Regions from separate parts of the Homo sapiens genome. Here region 1 is linked to region 2. Evidence: fine-mapped expression QTL. A gene starts in region 2. The other region holds a variant in brackets. All regions are shown on one strand. Distances are from middle to middle.

Region 1 (11,892 bases), 56 kb before region 2:
CCCACCTCCAAATACCCCAAATACCATTGCATTCGAGGTTAGGGCTTTAACATACGACTTTTGCGGTGGCACAAGTATTCAGTCCGTAACATATGTCCGCCTCTGGACTTTGATAAAATCACAAGCTCACCAACGTCTAGCAGAGCCCAGCTGCGATGGTGAGGGCCTGTGTGTGTGCATATGCACGGATGTAGTGTTTGTGCGTGTGTGCATGGATGTAGGGGTGTGTGTGTGTCCAAGTGTGTGTGCGAGAGGCCCCTGACATCCCGCTCAGGTTCTCTCCTGCCCTCTCCCTGGAGAAGGAGGAGTAGGTGTTGAGTGGGCAGTGATCTCCTTTCTAAGGGAACTGGGTTTTAGAGGATTTTATAGTCAGAGCAGCACAGTGGCTGCTGCTGCTACCGCTGCTGCTGCTGCTGAAATTTAAGTAATTTTCCCCTAATTAAGCAATTATCTCAGAGATAGCTGCTCCCATCCCCGGAAACTTTCTTATGGAGGGCAGGGAGCGGTGAGATGGGGGTGTAGAGCTTGGGAAGGCCCCAGATATAGAAACACTCTAGCTGTGAGATTCCTGCTGAGCCAAGGGCAGCAGCAGTAGAGGAGCACGTGGACTCCAAAGGTGTACTTGAACATGAGTCAACTGGTCCCAAGAGCCACGGTTGCTGGAGCCAAACACACCCATGGCAACCGACTCATTACAGGAGATTGGAGCCCACAGGGGACCCTGAGGTCCATTACAGGGACTTAGGGCGGGGAAAGAGAGAGTGAGCAAAGGCTGGGGCATTTTCAAGGCCAGAAAGAGAGGGAGGCTTCATTCTTCCATGGCAAAGGGAGAGCCGGACCACCCTAAACAGCTCATCCCGAGCACAAAACTTACCCCACCTTACCGTAAAGACTGTGTGTCGTCACTGGTGGGACTAGTTATAGACATAATCCTTCTCTGTAGGCTGACAACCCACAGACCCCACAATCACTTCTGGGAGCCTGAGGCTGCAGCCCAGGGCTAGGATACCCAGCTAAAGTGGAACTTCAGAGAAACAATGGGGAAAATTCTAGTATATCTCAAATATTGCATGGGACATACTTATGCCAAAACCCTACCCACTGTTTAGTTTTGTTGTTAGGCATTCTGTGATTTGACTTGCTAAATCTGGCAGTTCTACCTAGAGCCTAAATACCTTCTTCTCACAATTCCTAAGCTGAGAAATGATCGTTTGTCCCCAAGCAATCGCTGGATCCAGTAGAGGCAGCACGAGGACTGTAGGCCGGAGGCGAAGGATTCCCAGCTCTGAGGATTGGTACAAAAATCCAAAGGGTTTCTTGTAGAGCCAGTTTGAGGTGGATATACGGACCAGGCAACCTAACAAGGTGGTTTTGCCCTGGGATTCAAACATAGGAAAACTAGAAGGGGAAAGGAAAGAGGCCCTTATTTTTTGGTGTTAATCATCATTTACTACATGGAGACTTTTTAAAAAAAAAGACTGGGATGTTTCTTGGTTAAATGGTGAAAGGGAAATGAAATTGACAGGGCCCTTAGCTGGCTTGTCCCTGCAGAGACTAGAGCTTCTCTCTTCCAACAGAGTATTGACTCAACCCACACATAGATCTTTCTGTGGGAACTAGGAGAACAGAGATGTCCCCCTGCCTTCCTGATGAGAAACATTGTCAGAGTTACTGGCCTTTGATCCCAGACTAGCAAGCATACCATTGAGTCCAGGTCCCACTGGGACATGAGCAAGGTGGAGATTGTTCAGCCCTGATATAAATGCGGGAGGGGAGCTTCATGGCTCCAGGGTAGTCGTAGACCCCACCACCTACATGAGGGACCCTCTGGAATCACAGGGCATGGTCTAGAAGCCAGACAAAAATCTTCTCTGATGCCTTTCCCTGGGATGGGAGGGGGTTTCAGTAGCTGGAGTCCCCGAACGCTGTGCCCCTTGGCCCAGCCTCTATCAGCACTGGGGTTGACCCACTACTGAAATTCAGTGGGCGTTCCTTCCGCTGCTGCCAATTTCACCACTGTCAAGTGTGGTTACAGGTGCAAGGAGTGGGTGCAGCAGGGGGCAACAACTCCTCAAGGGAGCTTTGGCAGGAGGGGTGCAGCCATGGACCACGATGGGGATTGTGCCTGGCTGGTGAAGACCCAGGGAGTCCCCAGAACAGAGAGCTCTAGGGTGAGACACAGAATCCTCCCAATGCCCCACCTGCCAACCCCCAGATGCAGCTGGGGTTCTAGCTGGCTCCAGGCCCCACGGTGCCCGGAGGGCTACAGTGGATAAAGTCTGCTAAAAGTTACACTGTATTTATTTATTCCCTAGAAGTACAGAGAGACCTGCATAAGAGGAAAGGGCAAGGCATATAGAGACCATAAAAAGAGTTGAGTTTTTATGTAGTGGTAACCTGGGGAATTAATTTCTGGCTAACAGAGGTCGCACGACAATAACTGAGTTTTGAACAAGCACAGTTCAAAACTCCCTGGGGAGGTACGGAGAGGCCACTGAGCCTTGAAGGCAGGATGGAGGTGGGTGGAGTGAGGGGTGGGAGATGGCCAGGGCTGGCCTTGGGGACATGGGTACTAGGACCCAATTTCAAAGCACAGTAAGGCTAATAACTAAATGCTGGTTTCATTCAGTCCACATTTATTGGGCACCTACTGTGTGCCTAAACCTGAGTGAATAACATGGGGATTACAGTGATGGATAAACTGGGGCCCCACTCTCAATACTGTCATTGTCTTTTGGGGGGGTACCAGGAATGATGCTACCTGTGACTGGGCCATCAGGCATGACAGATAGAGCATGACCTGGGAATCAGACCCCATGGGCAGGAATTCTGCTTCTTTACTATAAACTCTGCCACCTTGGCAAGATGCTTAATCTTTCTCCCTCAGTTTCCTCATATAGAAAATAAGAATAATCCTACTTTCTGCCTCTTGAGATTGTGATGAAGATTTATGTGAACAGAAATGGCCTGGCATGTAACACCTTCTATCAGGACACACACTCTGAGAAACAGCTTCACTGAGTTTGAGGCAAAGTATTATGATGGTCCAGAGTGACTCATCCAGTGGAGGGGTCCAGGAAGGCTTCATGGAGGAGGTGACTTCTGATTTAGGTTTTAAAGCATGAATAAGATCTACATGAAGGGAGAAGAGAGGCACAACTTCTAGGCAGGTGCTACAAGCTGTGGCGGGAAGAATAGGAGGGGCCACGTGGCACTGAGTGCTTGATGTCCTGGGGGTGTTCTGGCCAAATTTAGGGAGCCCCCCCTTAAATATATAAGGCTGAGCTCAGGATGGTGGGCAGGCGGTGACCACACGTGGGGAGGAAACCAGAGCACCTGGTACAGTGCCCAGTCCCGGTCTTCTCCAGATACTGATGAAGGGGTGCGGGCATATTTTGGCTGAAGGCAGCAGCCCTAAGCTCCGGAAGACACCACATTCACCAAGTCAGAACCCTCGGGATGGGAGCCAAAGAATGTTTTCTAGCACTCAGTGAGAGAACAGGCCCGGGCTACCTGATTGAAAGACACCGCAACCCACACGTGTAGCCTTACATTTTCCAGCAGCCACATTAAAAAAAAGTGAAAAGAAACAGGTGAGATTGCTCACAATAGCATACGTCATTTAACCCAATATATGAAAAATGCCATGATTTCCATGCATAATAAATATAAAAGAATTATTTATGAGATATCTTGCCATCTCTTTTTCATACTGGGTCCTAAAAGTCCTGTGTGTATCCCACACTTCAGGCACCTCACTAGCCCAGTGTCCAGTGATCAATAGCCACATGTGGCTCAGGGCTGTCATATCCAACAGCACAGTGATGAAATCACAGTGAAACTTCTCCACTCTCCAGTCCAGAGACGGCCATCTCCCCATGGCCTCCGCAGGGCATTCTCCAAACTCACACATCTGGAGCCAATGCCCACGGGCTCCTGGCTGGTCATTCTGTGTTGTCTGATACTGTTCATGTTGGTGACCTTAGTGCTGGCCAGGGAGGGAGTCTGGCTCTCTTCTATTGGAGGTAATTGTGGAGTGGGGTGGCTGTGGGGCCTCAGAACACCTTGGAGCTCTCAAAGACCCTCTCACATCTTGGCCATTCCCACTTCCAGGACCAAAGCAATGATTCTGGGAATCAGCTGGGGCCACCACTGGAATAGAATGAGGCGATGGGGAGAGCCCAAGTTGGGAAAATGGAATCTTTGGTGACTGTGGGGGATGTGAGAGCCACAGACAGGAGATCACGGGTGCCTCTGCCTGCCACATATTTGAAAATGCACAAAGCAAGAGCCTCCCCTCTCCCCAGCACACGCAGGCACAGGGAAGTGTGATCATGGAATCAATTTATTTGTCTACTAATGCGCCAGGCACTGTGTTTTATAGGTATGAGCCCATGTCAGCCTCACGACAACCCTTGAGATAGGTCCTATCAGTGCCTCCATTTTAAAGATGAGAAAACAGAGGCACAGAGAGGTGAAGCATCTTGTCCGGAGTCACACAGCTAGTGGGTGGGGTAGCCAGGATTTGGACCTAGGGGGAGCTCCATCCGGGCACCAAGTCCACTGTCCCCTGGAAATCACATCATGACAAGGGGAGAAGGCAGTGGGGAGATGGAAAAGTTGGGAGGCTGTTCAGGAACTGGTGACAAGGAGGGGGAAGGCTGCCATCTGGCACCACCATGCAGGCAGTCCCAGATGGTGGAGAACCCACATCCACTGCCTGGCCGGGCTGGAACAGGATGGGGCGCAGACAGGCAGGTTCTCGGCAGACAGGCTCTGTGAAGAAGGTCTCATGCTTCCCCCATCCCACCCCAAGGGAGTGGCGAGGGAAGGGAAGCCTGTGACCTCATCATCTGGGCCAAGGCCAATGACATCACCAGGAGGGCAAGGAGCCAGGCCCAGCAAGTTATTTATGGAAACGGCTGGCGGCCAGGCACAGCTCCTGAGCTGTTTCAGATGTGGCTGGGATAAAGCCTCCAGCTGGCCCACTGGGGCTGCTGAGGCCAGGCAGGCGGGTGAGGATGAAGGAGGGCTGGAGGAGGGCTGGGGGAGTCAGCCCGCTGATGGGGCAGGGCTCTTCGAAGGCTCACTGGGGTCCCCAGCGGGGATCACTGGGGCACCATGCTTCTCCTTGGCGTCTGCCCATCTGTGTCCTCCCTTGCTCAGGGTGGACCTGTGGTCTCTGCAGCCTGCCATCAGGGTCTGAGTCTGGATGAGCTTAGAAAGAGCAGCATGGAGATTTCAATCACAAGCCACAGCTCATGTGTGCATCTATATTCGTGTGCCTGAGGGGATGTACTGTGTGCATGGCTGTTGTATGTGCGTCCCTGTCAATGGATAGATATACTCTCTGGTCCCTTGTATATTGCTCCCCTGAGTGGTCATAGGGGTAGTTAAGTTTGTGAGTTCATGGATATGGGCATCTCTGCATGAGTGTGTGTGTGTGTGTGTGTGTATGTGTTTGTAGGAGATGGGGAGAAGAGAGAGACAGAGTGCACAAGACCTAGCAAATAGGAAGAGAGGAGTCACGAGGGGAGAGAAATCACTGTAGGAAGTTGGGAAATATAATTTCAGTGGAGGATACAGAGGCACTTATGGAAGCTTCAGCAAAAGTAGACAAACCTTTCAATCCATTTATCAAAAATGCCTGCAGCTCTGCCGCCTGAGTAGGTGCAACAAGAATAAAATATTGAGCAGAACCAGTGATTGTGGGACTGGAGGAGGCCAATAAATAAGAAATTACTGAGATGCTCACCCTGAGTCCAATGAGTTTGCTCTGGCACTCCCTCTACTCATCATGCCCTGTGGTCTCTTGGGTGCTGGCTGGGACAAGCTAGCAGGAACCCACGTGGCCAGATCTCTGGCATTTTGACTTTAGGACTTCTGGAAGGATGCCTGGGAGAAT[CA/C]GGGGGAACAGAGCTGCCAAGCTCCACTCAGGTAAGCTTTGGTGTGGTGGTAACACAGGGGCCCTGCTTCTCATGCCTCTTGGCCTTGCTAGCTGCCCTCCTTCCCTTTAAAATCCTCCATGAGGGAACGAAATCTACAAGACCCTGAATGGAGCTTTGGTGGTTGATCTATGGGCTCTCGATGGAGCAACAGGGGTATGGGAATGGGAGCCAGGTCATGACCAAGGGGCTCCCAAACCTAGACCCCAGCCTGTGCTATCTACAAAGACCTCATCTTGCCTCCCAGATCTTAGGCCTTTTGAGTGATGGGTGGAGGGATGACACCATGAAACCTCCCACTGAATGGGAACCCCATCCTTTGGTACGTCCTCTTTCATGTCATGACCACCCACCCCAGAAAAGAAAACGAGCACTTTTTCAAATGCCCTTAAACTTGAACTCAGGATGAGTTGAAACAGGATGTCTCATTGATTTTTTTTTCACCTCCAAGTCCACAAAAGAGTAATGGGCACAGCTTTCCCCCTCCCCTCCCACACCCTGGCAACTGCCCCTCAACCCCCTGACCGATCACCTGCTTCCCTCACACCCACACAGCACCCCCTCAATAACAGAACTAGAATCGTTGCATCTCAATGCCAAGAACCACAATGGCAGGATAAACTGCCCGGGAGACCCCATCCAGGGCCATGGCTGTGGGAGTCACATTCTCTAACCTTCTCCCAGCTGTGATCAGCAGAATGGGAGAGGTCCAGCTGAGTGGCTCTCTGGGTTGCCAAGCTAAACACCCAGAAGGCAGGAAATAAGATTAACTCTCAGCAGGAAATAGAGGGATAAAGGTTGACTGGGGCAGTGGAGGCGCCAACTGGATGTTCCAAGGGACAAAAAGGAGGACCCTGGCTCTGTGGGAGCAGCCTGAGCTCACAGAATCCACTCCTTCTGCTTTCAGAAACACAGCAGATGGGAACTCCACTTTTTTAGAGTGTTCTGGGGAGGCAAATCCCCTATCTACAAGTTGTTCCTAGTTTCCCTGCCTCATTGCAGAAGGCCTATCTTAGGACCCAAGCAAGATGCAGTGTTGTTAGGCTCTTGGACCTGGAAAAGGTCCTGAGCTCTCCACTGCCCCACTGCCTCCACTGCACTCTCTAGGTATTTGTAACCGAGTATGATTGCATGTATATGGGTCTGCCCAAGCATGGGCACCTGTCCCTTCCAAAGGCACCCTCATCCTTGGGAGGGATGGAGGTGGAACAGCAGGACGAACTTCCCAGCAGTCAATCAATCTAGAATTCTGAAGACAATTTCACCCCCAGACGGCAACAGGATGAGCAGGATCAGGGAGCAGCACTCTTGTTTGCAGGGCTGGTACTCTCTATCACATTTCTAGAGCCTGTGAAATGCCATTCCAGGCTGCTGGTCCAGGACCGTTCTCCTTTCCTTGTTTCTCTAGCCCTGCTTCCATGCTGGACAGGCCTAAGTGTGTAGGGGGCGGTGGTTGAGGAAAGTTGATAGGGCAACCATCCCAGGTGGCTCTTTCCTTTGCCTTTGTAAAATCTGTAAGAAGAGGAAGCAGTCGTTTTCCTGGGGCGCTGGGGTATAGCCCCATAGATTGAAACTATGTGAGGCACAGCACCAAGCAGAAAGACCTGGTTTCCATCCTATCATCTGCGTCCCAGCGGCTCGCATTACTGGCTCCTTTAAAGACTGACATCTGGGCTTTGGCCAGTGCTCAGATTGCAAGAATAAGGAGCTATATCTCTAGTGAGATGGTCGGGGGGTTGTCATTGCACCAGCTTTCAAAGGGCTTTTCACCATTGTCATACTTTTCTTTTTCAGTCTTACTTAAGGAGATGTGTTCAAACAATGATGATGATGATGATATTGCCGTGTGCTTACTCTATGCTAGATGCTTCACTTTTGTTGTTCATTTAATTAGCACAATGATCCAATTAAGTAGGTATTATTATCTCCACTTTTCATATGAGGAAACTGAGGCCGAGAAAGGCTATGTGACTTTCCAATGGCCACGGGTATCCTGAACCCAAACCCAGGGCTGGATGACTACCAAGCCCATGCTATTGCTCGGGCACTTTTCTGCTTCTGCAAGGGAAGTGGTTTCAGGCAGAGAAAGCTAAAAGCTGGCCTGAGTGATTAGCTCTTCTCAGGGTGCAGAAGGCCCAGAACTTCAGGCAGAGGATGCACAGCCAGCGAGTGACTCATCTCGGTTTGCTTGAGACTTTTTAGCACTGAAAGTCTTGCCTTCTGGGAGCCCCATCAGTCTCGGGCACACTGAGATGGTTGGTACCCTAGATGGAGTGCACGCCAAGGACAGTGTGGACCAGGTACAGTGGATGGACCCTGGAGAACCACCTGCTCTGGGTGGTTGAAGGTAGTGGGCTCAAGTCAGTGGGCAGAATGAGATTTGCTGGCAAAGGCTCTTCTTTTTTTTCTTCTTCTTTTTTTTTTTTTTTGAGATGGAGTCTCGCTCTGTCACCCAGGCTGGAGTGCAGTGGCATGATCTCGGCTCACTGTAAGCTCTGCCTCCTGGGTTCACGCCATTCTCCTGCCTCAGCCTCCCGGGTCCACGCCATTCTCCTGCCTCAGCCTCCCAAGTAGCTGGGACTACAGGCGCCTGCCACCATGCCCGGCTAATTTTTTGTATATATATATTTTTAATAGTGATGGGGTTTCACCGTGTTAGCCAGGATGGTCTCAATCTCCTGACCTCGTGATCTGCCCACCTCAGCCTCCCAAAGTGCTGGGATTACAGGCGTGAGCCATCGCGCCCAGCCAAGGCAAAGGCTCTTCTGAGCAGCCAGTCTGTGGATCTGAAGGTCACCAGCTTGATCTACTCCTGTCTCCACTGGAAACAATGTACAAATCCTTCACCACGTTCATACTTGGCTGCAAGCATGCCCTGTGCCCCTGACATTGCTACGCCTGGCCCTGGGGCCCTGGCCCCATCTGAATCTCATTTCCCCTTAGATGGTAAATAAAGAGAATGATGGTTTTCTCAGCCTCTCGTACCACCAACAATCTCCACCCTCTGTCAGTCAAGTCATAGAAGGGTCATGGAAGGGCTGAACATACCAGGAATGTTGCCAGTGCTGGGGGCCCACACTGTCAGATGCAGGGTTCCGGGTCACTGGGGACCCAGCGAGATGGGACAAGGTGAGAAGAAGAGGAAAAGGAGAAAGGCAAAATTCCCAGCCAAAAAAAAAAAAAAGTTCAATCAGATTTGTAAAGGGCACAATTTACAAATCCGTCACATATTTTACTAGGCTGGGATTTACGGATTAGCCTGTAATACTTAGGCGGCTTTTTGTAATAAAACCCTGAGCCGAGGCAGTCTTGGGGAAGTGAGGAGGAGGAAGGAGGCTTCTCTCTCTATCTTGCTTTCATTTTCCCAGCATTTTTTGATCTAGGCAGTCCCATTAATCTGTGCTTTATCTGCCTATGGAGAAGGATTGAGCTCTTTATTGGATTTTTGTCAAGAATAAATGATTTAGTTTGGGATACTGTGGAAACGATTTTTGTGGTATTACACCATCTAATAAATGAAACAGCAGGGATCAATTCCTTTCTTGCAATGTGTTCAACAGGCAGGGTGAAATATGCCCCACAATTATTTGGTATTGCACTCCATAGATATTTATAACCGAGTAGGACTGCATGTATATGGGTCTGCCCAGGCATGGGCACCTGTCCCAGATGATGTGATCCATTAGTCCCAGAGCATGAGACTAGAGACCCAAGTGACAGGTCGGTCAGAAATGCTGACCAGGTTCACTCGAACAGTCAAGGCTGAGGGCTGGAGAGAAGGAATCAGGTTTGAAGGTGAGGGCTGCAGTTGAGAGACTGTATTTACCAAGGCTTGAGTGCTTTTCCTGGAGCTTTGGAAGTGAGAGAAACTAACAGGGTGGGACGTCATTGCCACAGCAGACCTGGCAAATGCCTGGTGCGTGGGGACTCTATGCAGAGAACTGAGGTCCCATCCCCTACCCATCCTGGGTACCCCCGTCCATGTCCCACTGGCCTCTCTCCCTGGACATTGCTTCGAGGGAAAATGTCTGGAAGTTTTTGGAGAAGGGACCTGGCTTTCTGTCCAGGTAGGCTCATAAGGTTTATATCCCTGAAGCCTCACAAATATTTATTGAGAGCCTATTACATGACAGCGCTTAGCACAGGCCTGGCCTGAAGTAAACTGGATATAGATATTTGTTCACAGATTGACAAACAGAAAGCCTTACAAGATGCCCTTCCCAGGCGCAAACCCACGTCACCCTCACAAGCAGAAACAGGGAATAGTAAGGATGAGGGACAGATGGTCGCTAGGAAACTGCAGCCTTCCTCCGATCCCTAACCCCAGGGGTAAAAACAGAATGATCGTGAAGGCAGGGAGCGGGGACAGGTGGTCCTGGGCAGCGTGGCTTATGCCCTGCCCATGGAGATGCCTGTGTTGGAGATGGTTGCTTACCCAGGTTTCACACGCCGGACATCAGCACCTTGGCTCAAATTGTTGAAAACAGTCCCCTTCGGTCTATCAGCGCCATCAGAGACATGTTGGACGTGACACCTTTGTGAGCTTTGTACACCTCAATATTCATCAAATGAAGGCCCGAAGAAATGGATGTCAGTATTAGCAAGATTCTTTCGCCCAGAGCTTCGTGGCGTTGGTATCTCCTTGGCTGGTCTTGCCTCCCAGCTGCATGCTCTGTAAATGTTTGTAGTGAGCGTGAGACACTACAGCTCTCTGTCTCTCTGCCTTAAGCCCACTCTATTTTTATACTATTTGGTATTATCTTTGCTGGCTGTTTTTTCTCTGCCACAATCAGAATTCTTGGGGCTCGGTGCCGACGGGAGGGGTTTTAAGTGTCTTTGGCAGGAAGAATTTCTTCTGTCTGTAGTTCAATCTGAAGTTCATTCACATTCTCCTTGCAAAGAATGGCGGATGCAGTGAGAGTTGCCGTAAAAGCGATGAAAAAGTCATCGGCAATCCTTACCACATCCGTACATCGGCAGCTCGGAGGCTTGACTGCTGGAGCGAGATGTGGCCCAAGACGCCCCGGTGGAGGCTAGGGTCCTCATGGTGCCATTTGCCCCAACTCCCAGGAGGGGCAGGGAGACGATTTCCTCTCAACTTCCCAGGCGGCTTTAGGATGTCAACTTGGGTCTTGGCCTGGAGCCCTTTGGATTCTTTCATGTTTTTCTTGACTTGCTAAGTGTGCTTTCCATCAGTTGGATACGGAATGCATCAAAACAATCATTATTATTTCAACCACAGCCTCCTCTGAAAGCGCTTTTTCTTGGATATAACACCTCTGTCTCAAGGCAGTTATTGCCATTCCAATGTGTTATGCTGTGATTTCATCCTCAGAGGGAGCTGCCACACTCAGAAAGCAAACAGACTCTTCCCACATCTCGGCATAGAGCAACCCTGTCCTTCCAGTTTGTTCTTCGGGCCACACATCTATGAGCCAGGACAGATGCATCTCTTTCTCCCACACTCCACATTCCATCCATTGGGAAATGCTGCCGGCTCTGCTTCAAACTGCCCAGAATCCCACATCATTCTTCCCCATTTCAAGTGCTTTTCTCCGGCTCCAGCTGGGACTCCTGCCCCATCCTGACCCTGGCAGCCCATGCTCAGCATGGCAGCCAGGGTGAGCCACTCACAGCTCAAACCGTTCAGACCTCCTCCTTTTCCCAGAACGAGAATTGGGTCTTCGCCATGGCCTCAGGGCCCCTTGCAATGTGGCCTGAGTGACCGCTCTGACCACCCCTTCCCCAGCTGCCCGCCCTACCCACCCCACAGCAGCCCCACTGGCTGCCTTGCCCTATGATCAAATAACCCAGGCAGTCCCCTGCCTCGGGACCTTTGCACTGGCTGTTCCTTCTGCCTGGAAGGCTTGTCCCACAGAGACCTGCATGGCTGATGGCTGACTCCATTACTGCCTTGAGATTCTTATTTCAAGGCATAAGGCAGCAT
Region 2 (11,892 bases):
AAACTTGGACACACAATTCCCTTAATGCACAATTCTCAGGCCCCTCCCCTGCATGAGCCAACCCTTGCCCAGGTTTCAAACTTCAATTCCTTTTACCTATAGCGAAGTATGATTTTTTTCTCCATCACTTTATACCAAATAGAATGAAGAAAGTGAGGCAGGATGAGTGGATTTACGGCCTCAAATGAATTTCAAGATGAATAAGAACAGTCGCAATTAAAATCAAATTTCTGAGACAGGATTTGATCTCTTTCAAGGAGAGAGCGGGCCTGGCCTTGCCCACAGCCACAGATGCCCCTTAATGGGGTTTGAGATGCTAGGATGTGGGACTCGGGAGGAAACACCTGGGGAACGCCGCACCTTTGAAGCTCATTTTGTCAAGGTTCTTTCACGGCGGTATCACCGGAGACCAAATACCATTTTTAATTACTCACGAAAGCACGAGATGGTTGCCTCTTCTCAGGCACACTCCTCGCTCTTCACTTCAATCCTTTTTTTTTCTTTCTTTGAGACGGAGTCACTCTGTCGTCCAGGCTGGAGTGCAGTCGCGCCATCCCGGCTCACTGCAACCTCCGCCTCCCAGGTTCAAGTGATTCTCCTGCCTCAGCCTCCCAAGTAGCTGGGATTATAGGCACGCGCCACCACGCGCTGCTAATTTTGTATTTTTGATGGAGACGGGGTTTCACTATCTTAGCCAGGCTTGTCTCGAACTCCCGATCTCAGGTGATCTGCCTGCCTCAGCCTCCCAAAGTGCTGGGATTACAGGTGTGAGCCACTGCGCCTGGCTCTTCACTTCAGTCTTATCTTCAGGCTGTCTCTGTCTCCTTGGCTGGGGGAAAGACGCCAGTCAGCTATTTTTTCTGTGGCCCAGGTGAGGATAAATGAGGGCTCCAGGGGGTCAGGGATTTGCTCAGAGTTGGTTAGAAAAAAGCTTAATAGCTGCTGATACTGAGCACCTGCCAGGGGCTTGACACACTTTTTCTTTCATCTCGTGACTCCCGAGGTAGGTATGGTTAGTTTTATTTTGTGGGTGAGAAAACAGGCTCAGAAAGGTTATGAAACTGGCTCAGGGTCACATAGCGGGTGGCTGAAATTTAAATCTGGGTCTTCTGACCCAAAGCCTGGTGGTTTCCCATCTGCCCTCTTGATGCAGGAGTCCAAAGAGGAGGCCAGGGGGCATGCTCAGAAGCTGCGAAGGGGAGCTAGACCTGCCTCCATCAAGGAGTCCAGGTGTCTGGGATCCACCTGTCTACCTCCCTCCCAACCTTATGGAATATTCCTCAGAGTCTCCCCCTACCCAAATTTGGTAGGGTTTCTCTTCGTTCAGAAGCTCTGGCCTTCTTCTTCAGCTATTTCCTTATTTTGGTGGTGTCTGAGTGAACCCAGGACAAGACCTGCCAAGGAATTTTCTATGTCAGTCTGAAAGAAAAGCTCACCTCCTCCATCGCTTGCAGCAGGGGTTCCAGCTGGAGTCTGCAAAGCCAGGGCGATTCTCCCTTCCCCATAAGGGACATCTGGATATGTCTGGACACATTTCTGATTGTCACATCTGGGAGGGTGGGTGCTGATGACGTCTGGTGGGTAAATGCCAGGAGTGGTGTTAAACATCCGGCAAGGCCCGGGACAGCCCCCGCCACAAAGAATAATTCAGCTCAAAGTGTCACCACTGCTGTGGTTGAGAAACCTGCTGTGAAAAATGCCAGGAGGGAGGAGAAAGGAGCCCCTTAACTTCAGTGCCTTATGTCCATGGGACACTGACACCCCCAGGCAGAAGCAGCCACTTCACTTGGCAGGGCGGCACAAAATGAAAATGTTGCAATTCTTGTGAAAAATGATTTAAAATTTCAAGACAGCAACAGCAGACCATTAAACAAGGGCCTGTGGGACTGGCCAGGACACCCACCTAGGAAGCTGGAAAGAGCTCTCTGCTGGTCCCTGGGATCCCCTGGGTGCCCTGTCCTCAGCTCTCAGGCTTGTAGTCACACGACTCCTCCAAAGAGTTCAGGCCAGAACACTGAGACGGCAGTGCCTGCTGAGAATCTGAAGTGGCAGACTCACCTTTCCTTTATGGAGGAAAAAATCTCACTTTTGACTGTCAGGGAATGAAGGGACAGGACTCAGAGGACTGTCTAGGAGGTCCTGAGTCCTCCCCCGTCCTACTGCTTCTTGGGAGGGTCAATATGCCACGAGGGTTTTCAAGCACAAAGTAATTAAGAGGAGGAGCAGAAAGCTTCCAGTCTCCAAGCTGGTAGCCCCCAGGGCTGAATCTGTGGTTTTCTGTTTGCTGTGACACTTCATCTGTAGAGGGCCGCTCTGGGAAAGAGCGGTGCATACTGGGCTCCATCTGAGGAACAGATCCTGGAAATGACCTTCTCTCCTTGTCTCTCCCTGTCTCTCCCACACCCCCTCAATAAGCAGCCTCCTGCCATTTATTTCAATGATATTGCTTTTGTTTTGTTTCATTTTTCTTAAGCATTTTATTTTTATTTTTATTTTTGAGAGGGAGTCTTCCTCCGTCACCCAGGCTGGAGTGCAGTGGCATGATTTTGGCTCACTGCAACTCTGCCTCCCAGGTTCAAGCGATTCTCCTGCCTCAGCCTCTGGAGCAGCTGAGATTACAGGCACACACCACCACACCTGGATAATTTTTGTATTTTAGTAGAGACCCGTTTTTGTCATGTTGGCCAGGCTGGTCTCGAACTCCTGGCTTTAAGTGATCTGCCCGCCTCGGCCTCCCAAAGTGCTGGGATTACAGGCGTGAGCCACTGTGCCCAGCCTTGAGCATTTTACAGTTAGATTGTTCTTCAGGGTTGAGGGTGTTTTTGCAAACCATCTCACATGCCTTTGAGAAGATCGGAGGGAGGGCTGCAGGGGTGTGAGTGGTAGCCCAGGTGGACAGGAGCAGCCACGAGGGGCCCACCGTGAATCAGATCGTCTGTGGAACAGGAGAGAAGGGCCCTGCCACCTGCTCAGGCAGCCCCCACAGCAGATAGTTGTAGATTTCCAGAGCTTCAGCTTCCCTTTCAAGAGTGGAGGGGAAAAAAAGCAAGAGGAAGGCCTGGGGGCTAGGGCAACCCACCCACCAGACAATGATCACAGACCAGCCACCATCAGCCACAAATTCTGCAGCTCAGGTCTAATAGTAATCACTGGTGCTGTAAACATTTAAGCACCTACTGCCTTCTGGTACGCATATGGGCATCAGCATGGTAAGTAGCGAAGAGCATGGATGGACCCTTGAACCAGACTCCAGCTTGAATTCCAACTGCCACTTAATGGCTGTATAACCTTAATCTCTCTGTGACTTAGTTTCCTTGTGTATAAAGTGTGGGACCTACCTCATCGGGGTCACTATCCATAGCTTAATTTTTATAAAGTGCTTAGGAAAGTATTTGACACGTGGTAAGCACTAATATAAAGAGGTGTAAAGAAAAATCATGCCTATAATCCTAGCACTTTGGGAGGCTGAGGTGGGTGGATCACTTGAGGTCAGGAGTTCAAAATCAGCCTGGCCAACATGAAGAAACCCCGTCTCTACTAAAAATAGAAAAAAATTAGCTGGGCGTGATGGTGCACACCTGTAATCCCTGCTACTCAGGAGGCTGAGGCAGGAGAATTGCTTAAACCCGGGAGGCAGAGGTTGCAGTGAGCTATCGCACCACTGCACTCCAGCCTGGGCAACAGAGCGAGACTCTGACTCAAAAGAAAGACAAAAATTAAATTACCAGATTTAATCCCCATGGTAACCCTAAGAGGTAGGGACTGTTATCGTCCACATTAATAGACAGGACACTTGGAACACAGAGAGGCTGAGACCCAGGTCCAGAGTCACACAGCTCGTCTGAGGCAGAGCCTGGATTCAAATCCAAGCAGTCTGGCTTTCTGTAGGACTGTGTCCTCTCTCCAAGGGGAGGATGGAGCTTGACCACCTGTGTTCAGGTCCTGGCTTACCCATCAATTAGCTTGGGCTCCAATATCCTCCTCTGAAGTCAAGGAGGTTCCCCAGATGTCGTGGATGACTCCCATGAGTGGCTCTTAGAGGCCAGGAGGCCTGGGTGTCTAGTCAGTGTCCTGGCCTCAGTCCTGGCCTCTGGGACAAGGGAATTGTGGATAGGGGAGCAGCTGTCCCTGAGCAGGGTGGATGGATGTGGCAGTTTCCAGCCCAGCTCACTGCACCCGCTGTCAGCCGTTATTGAAACACATAGCCAGGGCTGGGTAACAAGACGGCCACAGAAATGATCTGAAGTGGATTTAATCATTGCCCTGGTCCCTGCCAACTCTTGTCCACTTAGGGGTTTTGCCTGTCTCGCTCGGACTTGACAGTCTGGACACTCAAGGTGATGAGCTGCCCAGAGCACCCAAGACCCAGACTCCACCCAGGACTGTCCTCTCCTGGACCACCTGCCTGAAACTTCCATCCTGACCCTTCTCCACCTTCTCAATGGGACCTGGGGTGAGAGCCCAAGCTGGGAGCGCCGGCCTGGCATTGTGTAGTTTAGACAAGTCCTTGAAGCAGGGCAGGTGGGGGAATGGGGAGGAGTCGGGGGCTCAGGCCCCCATGTTCCTCCCCAGCACAGCCTCACCTGCTCTGCCTCAGAGTGACTCAGGACAAAATCCCCAGGTGGCTCTGATGGTACTTGAAGTGACAGAGGGAAGGAGGAATCTGGAATGGAGACCCCAGCCCCAGGCCCTTGAGCTCAACCCAGCACCAGCCCCCAGACCTGTTCACTCTTTGGCCTTCCAGGGCCAGCCCCAGGCTGGGCTGTCACTGATGTGGGTGAGCAGGAGTGGTCCCCGTTCCTCACAGGGGCTTCTCTCTATGCACACCTCACATCATCCCCCGACCTCCAGGCATAAACCAGCCTTGCAGCCCTGACTCCAGACCTGTCCAGAGAAAGTGCCACCTGCCTGGGGAGCTGATGCAGATGAGAGGGAAGGAGAGAGAGACAGTGTCCCCTGCACCATGCCCTGAACTTCCCAAGGGACCTTCATCAAGCTCCCCTGGGGGCTGTATTGTTAAAATGCACAGATTCTTGGACCTCGACTCTGGACTTCCAGAAGCGAAATCTCTGCGGGGGTGGAGGAATTGGGCACTGATTCTAATGAAGTCCCCAGGGCAATCTCACCTGCTTTAGAGCAGAGGTTGGTACCCTGGCTGCACATCAGAGTCTCATGGGAAATCTAAACACATCCGTTCCAGGGCCTCACCCCCAGACCAAGCAGACCAGTGTCAGGGCTGGACATCAGGCATTCGTATTTTGTAAAAAATGATTAAAATGTGCACCCAGGGTTGAGAACTGCTTCAGAATTTGCAGACCTCCAGCTGGGTCTGACCCAGGAAAACAGGAAACAAGAGAGATGGTGTCAGCTGGGGCCCTTCACTGGTGGGGCCAGGTGGGTGGGGGGAACATCCCCACGATCCAGGCGACCCCCACCGCTGGCCAGGCAACCTCATGGCTGAAGGCGAGGAGGGACGCAGGCACGAGGGCCTTGGCGTAAGGAAGCTGGCTCTGCAGTCAGGCCCTGCCCTGGGGCTGTTCAGATGCCCAGGAGGGCAGGTTTATGCGAATGAAGCAATTACAGAACCATTTAAAAGAGTGAGGGAACTTGGTCCAGAAATGCCTGTGGAGCTTTCAAAAGGGGTGAGTGACCTCATCCAGCCAAGAAAGGGTCTGGGAGAGAAGCTGGAGGCCGAGGTCTTCAGTCTAGGCTAGGGGAGGGGAGAGAACGTTTAAGAGGGTGGCAGGCATTCCTGTCCCAAGTCACCAACTGGGTAGCGCTCTTGTTTGTCTTATGCAAGAGTGTTTAGATAAGAACAGGCTTTTGCATTTCAAAAAGGAGCCTGTTCTTCCTCGCCTTGCTTCTTCCTGTGCTGAGTAAACGGAAGGCACACCCTTGTTTCCCTCCCTATTCACAGCTCCTCTGTCCGCCACAAAGACAACCTCCTCCCCTTCTGCCCTCGTCTTCTGCCTGTGGACATTCAAGGGACCCCGCTCCTCCTTCATCCTTTCTCTCCTGCACGAATGAATCGTTTCCCGTGAATCTGCTCTTTGAAAAACCCCTTCCTAACTTCCATCTCTCTTCCTCTGCTCTCTTTGATGCCATCGCTTCTTAAAAGGGAGGCCTAGACTCACTGCTGTCTCACTTTTGTACGTTTATTTTCATCATGGTAAAATATACATAGCATAATATTTACCATTTGAGCCCTTTTAAGGTGTACAATTCAGTGGCATTTACATTCAAAACATTGTGCAACCATCCTGATGATCTATTTCCAGAGCTTTTTTTTTTTTTTTTAAATCATCCCAAACAAATTCTGGAACTGTGAGATAATAATGTCCCATTCTTTTCTCCTCCCAGTTCCTGGTAACCTCCATTCTTTCTGTCTCTATGAATTTGCCTATTGTAGAAACCTCGTGTAAGTGACATCATTCCATATGGGGCCTTTGTGTCTGGCTTATTTCACCTAACATCATGTTGCAGCAAGGTTCATTTCATTTCTTTTTATGGCTGAATAATATTCCCTCGTACAGATGGACAGCAGGTGTTGACCTATTCATCGGTTGTCTATTCGGCCTCCACAATCCACTGTTTTCATCCCTTCTTGCTGTCTCTACTTCTATGACCCTGGCCTAAGTCACCATTTTCTTCCACCAGAGTGCTCAGTGGCCTCCTCTGAGATTTCACTCTTTTTTTTTTCTTTTAAACAGCGTTATTGAAATGTAATTCATATATTATGTAATTCTCCCATTTAAAGTGGACAATTCAGGCTACTCTGCCTATGGAGTGGCCATGCTTTTGTTTCTTTACTTCTCTAATAAGCTTGCTTTCACTTAAAAAAAAAAAGTATACAATTCAATGGTTGCTAGTATATTCCATGTAGCTGCAATCGTCACCGTGGTCCATTTTACAGCATTTGTATCACCTCAAAAAGAAGCTCTGACCCTTCAGCTATCTCCCCTCCCCAACGCTCACCCTTACAGCCCTAGGCAACTAGTAATCTACTTTCTGTCTCTAGAGATTTGCCTCTTCTGGGCATTTTGTCTAAATGGAATCATACAATCCGTGGTCTTTTGTGAATGGCTTCCTTCACTTATCGTGATGGTTCCCGGGTTCATTCATGCTGTCCTATCGGCACTTCATTCCTTTCTATGGCCAAATAACTACCTCATTGTATGGATTCATTGGTGGACATTTATGTCGTTTCTATCTTTGGGCTATTACAAATAATGCTGCTTTAAACATTTTGTACAGGTTTCTGTATGAATATATGTTTTCGTTTCTCGTGGGTCTATACAGAGGAGTGGAACTGTGGGTCACACGGTAACTCTGTGTAATCGTTTGAGGACCTGCAGGCCACAGTGGCTGTCCTGCCTCCTCTCTTGCCTCTTTCAAAACTCCTCTTCACAGAGCAGCTGATGCGATCTTTCAAAAATGAACTTCAAATCATGTTTCATCTTTCTTGTAAAATCCTTCAATGACTTCCCAGCGTTCTTAGAATAAAACAAACATCATCACCATGGTCTACAAGACCCTGTGGCTGGGCACCAACTCCTTCTGGGACCATCCCTGCCTGCCTGTAGGGCTCCCGCTCCTTTGGGCGTCCCGGCCGCTGCTCCAGCAGGCCTAGGAACTTTCTCGTGAAGTCATCTGCGCTGGCTCCTCCCTCTGCTGGAACAGTCTTCGCTCTTGTTTCAGCCTCCTGTGGACGCTGTAACCAATTGCCATCAACTGGGTGCCTTCAAACAACAGAAATGGCTTCTCTCATCATTGTGGAGGCCCAGCTCTAAAGTCAAGGTCTTGCCAGGGGCCTGTTCCCTCTGAAGGCTGTGGGAGAGCATCCTCTTTGCCTCTTCCAGCTGCAGGTGGTTACCACCAATCCTCCGGGTTCCCTGGCTTGTAGCTGCATCGCTGCAGCCTCTGCCACTGTTGTCACGAGGCCATCTCCCTCTGCGTGTCTGTGCTTTCACTGTCTTTCCTCTGTGCATGGCTGTGTCTCTTCTCCCTTCATATGAGGACACAAATCATATTGGGTTAAGGGCCCATCTTACTCTAGTATGACCTCACATTAACTACATCTGCAATGATCCTATTTGCACATAAGATCATATTCTGGCAGGGCATGGTGGCACACGCTGCAATCCCTGCACTTTGGGAGGTCAAGGTGGGAGGATTGCTTGAGGCCAGGATTCAAGACCAGCCTGGGCAACACACTAAGACCCTGATTCTTTAAAAAAAAAAAAAAAAAAAAAAAATTCTGAGGTTCCTGGAGAAAATATGAATGGTGGTGGGGGCAGGGGAGGGCACTATTCAACCCTGTATAGCACAGTTCCTCATGTCCCAGCTCAGATTTCAACTCCTTCTCACCCACTATCCCCACCCCAGCTCCCCTCTCCCAGGGCACCTTTCTGGTTTCTTTTTGGCACCTTCACAAGCTGTAAGTAGGTGTTGTTGTTGGTTATTCATCCATTTCCCCTACTGGGTGAAAGCTCCCTGAAGGCTGCTCCTTGTCTATCAAGCTCATCACTCTGCCACTGTGATCCACTGCCTGATGCAGGGTGACTCTTCAGCAACGTGGAAGGAGACAGGGAAGATCCTGGTCCTGCAAGAGGAAGCCTGGACACAAGGTGTGCATGGGCCCCGAGCAGTCCACCAACACACGCTGTGGCGTGTATCAGCACTTCCTTCCTTTACATGGACAAATGCGATCCCATCATATGGACACACACACTCCGTTTATCCATTCACCAGTTGATGGACATTGGCATCGTTTCCATCTTTTAAAAAGAACATATAGTTGTACATATTTATGGGGTATAGTGTGATGTGTCCACACATGTATAGCTTGTGTAAGGATCAAATCAGGGTAATTAGCAAATTCATCACCTCCAATATTTGTCATGTCTTTGCGGTGAGCACATTCGAAGTCCTCTCTTCTAGGTATTTTGAAATATTCCGTACATTAGTATTAACAATAGCCACTCTTCTGTGCCAGAGAAGAACAGAATGTTTTCCTCCCATCTAATTGTATGTTGTTTTCATCATGGTGTCCACCGTGAGGCCTTGGCCTTTGGCGTACCAGTCACTGAGTGCTCAGTGGGTGACTCCAGCCCATCTCAACAACGTTGGTGACAGTGTCAGCTCTCAAGGGCAGGATTCAGTCATCCAACCCACTTTGCACCTCCAAGCATCGATGACAGGTGGGTATTCAGAAAACGTGCTGAAAACTTCATGGAAGCTACAGCTCGACTCCCAAGAGAGAAGCCTGTCTTTGAAGTGCCTGTGGAATGAGAATGACCTTCCTCTGTCAAACTTCCTTTCCAGTATGATGTTTTAGTCAATCCAGAGATGTATTCCTTCCTGTGCATTGGGGATGGACTTGCATCTGGGGAGGGTGTCTGGGGTCAGATCATCCCAGGCCACTAGGACCTGAGGTGTTGAAAATCCTGGAGGATCACTGCTGTACCCAGTGCATTGACGGCCCCACTCTCCTGGCCGTCTGCCTTCTACAGCCTCTGCTGAGATGAAGGCAATTTGGCTGGATGTGGTGAGGAATCTGTACAGGGAAGAGAGGCTGTTGCAGAGGAGGCAGCTGTAGGAGCGTCAGCACCCAGGAACGCACTCTCTGGAGCCTGGTGCAGAAATAGCACCCACTGCGTGTGGTGAGTGTCTGGTGTCTGGCATTCTGTGATGCTCTTCGGTTTTAAGACACCTGCCAGGAACAAAGTGGGGACTGGTAAACCAAGGTGCAAGATTGCAAAAGAGGCTCTACTTCCCCCTGCCTTCCTGTATTCTCATCCTTTGCAATATGACTTTGCATCTTCCCCCATCAAGAGCTGGAGTCTATTTCCCTCCCATATTAGCTTCCTAGGGCTGCTGTAGCAAATTGCCATAAAGCAGGTGGCTGAAACAACAGAATAAGTCCAAAGTCAAGTTGTTGGAAGGGCCATGCTCTCTCTGAAGGCTCTAGGGGAGAATCCACTCCAGATCTCTCTCCTGGTGTCAATCCTTGGACTTGCTTGGCTTGTAGCTCCATCACTCCAATCTCTGCCTCTGACTTTGTGTGTCTTTCTCACTGTGTCTCTCTGTCTCTGTGTCTTCCTCTCTTCTTACAAGGATGCCGGTCATTGGATTTGGAGCCCACTCTAAATCTAGGATGTTTGCACCTGGAGATCCCTAATTATTTACATCTGCAAAGACCCTATTTCCAAGGAAAGTCACATTCTGAGGTTCCAGATGGACACGCATTTTTTGGGGACACTATTCAAACTACTACACCACCCCTTGAATCTGAACTGGCCATTTGTCTTGCTGTGGTCAACAGAAGCTGGTAGAAGTGACAATGTGTCCACTCTAAGGCCATGAAGCCTCCACTCTTGACCGTGGAACACTAAGACCACCTGTGAACAAGCCTGAACTAGCCCATGGCCCAGCTAGGCCAACCAGCCTCCAGCCCACCCAGCAGTTGTGCAGATGAATGCAGCTGAGCTCAGTGAAGCTCAGTAGAACATCTCAGACCAGCTGAGTCCACTGTAAATTGGCAAACCACAGAATTGAGACTGAGTATATGGTTGTTGTTTGAGGCCACACCAAGTTTAGGGTTATTTGTTACACAGTAGTCGATGACTGATTCACAAGGTGTTATTGGTTTAGGGCAAATGGGAGATGAGTGCCATTTCTGGGTGCTGCCCACGTATAACAAAAACCAAAGTCTTGGCTGGGCGCAGTGGCTCACACCTGTAATCCCAGCACTTTGGGAGTCCGAGGTGGGAGGATCACGAGGTCAGGAATTCGAGACCAGCCTGGCTAAGATGGTGAAACGCTGTCTCTACTAAAAATACAAAAATTAGCTGGGCATGGTTGCAGGCACCTGTAGTACCAGCTGCTCGGGAGGCTGAGGCAGAAGTTTGAACCTGGGAAGTGAAGGTTGCAGTGAGCCGAGATAGTGCAATTGCACTCCAGCCTGGGTGACAGGGTGAGACTCCATCTCAAAAAAATAAAAAAATAAATAAATAAAATAAAATAAAAAACTAAAGGCTTGGATCTAAACCATCTACTAGTGGCAGGAAGTCTAGGCATCTTCTGAGCCACCCTCAGGATCAAATAAAGCTACTGGCTGGGTGTGGTGGTTCACGTCTGTAATCCCAGCACTTTGCGAGGCCGAGGCGGATGGATCATGAGGTCAGGAGTTCAAGACCAGCCTGGCCAAGATGGTGAAACCCCGTCTCTACTAAAAATACAAGAAATTAGCTGGGCATGGTGGCAGGCGCCTGTAATCCCAGCTACCTGGGAGGCTGAGACAGGAGAATCACTTGAACCCAGGGGGCAGAGGTTGCAGTGAGCCAAGATGGTGCCACTGCACTCAAGCCTGGGCGACAGAGTGAGACTCTGTCTCTAAAAATAATAATAATAATAATAATAATAATAATAATAATAATAATAATAATAAAGCTACTGAATCCCTTCACCAATGGAGGCACGCTCATATACCTCTTGGCATCTCTCTACAGTCCCCTTAATGTGCAGCCATGCACACAGTGGTGCCTATTAAAGGCATGGAGGTGGTGGTGGAGAACATGACAGAAGCTAGGTTCGTAGCCCATTAGAGTCATGAAAAAAAATGAGTAATTCCCAGCTTCTTCCGCTCACTGCCTCTCCATCTTCTGGAGCATGACAAGAGGCATATTCCTCCTGTGACTCGCAGTCACGTGGAAGCAGAGAAGCTGCCAGTTTGAAATCCCAGAGATGGGACCCCCCACCTGGCCAGGGCCACCGATTAAGAGCCCGAGAGCCAGCCATCAGCAGGAGCCTCAAAAATGCTGGCTGAAATTAATCACTTGCCTTGCAAGGGTATTTATTTTCTCCTTTATACCTGGAGAGAAATGGGCTGTG

What was found.
Region 1: its variant is fine-mapped to the expression of LINC00469 in whole blood (INTERVAL, PIP 0.96).

Annotation. Positions count from the first base shown.
Region 1 is chr17:73,765,818-73,777,709 of GRCh38, forward strand. The region is part of intron 2 of LINC00469 (long intergenic non-protein coding RNA 469); the gene reads right to left. Among named protein-coding and RNA genes, the nearest start is that of LINC02092, 15 kb to the right of the region's middle. RefSeq lists enhancers at 1,564-2,064, 4,415-4,916, 4,917-5,416. The variant CA/C (reference allele first, on the strand shown) is at 5,906.
Region 2 is chr17:73,822,252-73,834,143 of GRCh38, forward strand. It overlaps LINC00469 (long intergenic non-protein coding RNA 469), which reads right to left and starts at 6,286. Exons shown (of 4, transcript NR_027146.1): 1 at 6,197-6,286; 2 at 1,437-1,574. RefSeq lists enhancers at 5,623-6,132, 7,123-7,624, 7,625-8,124.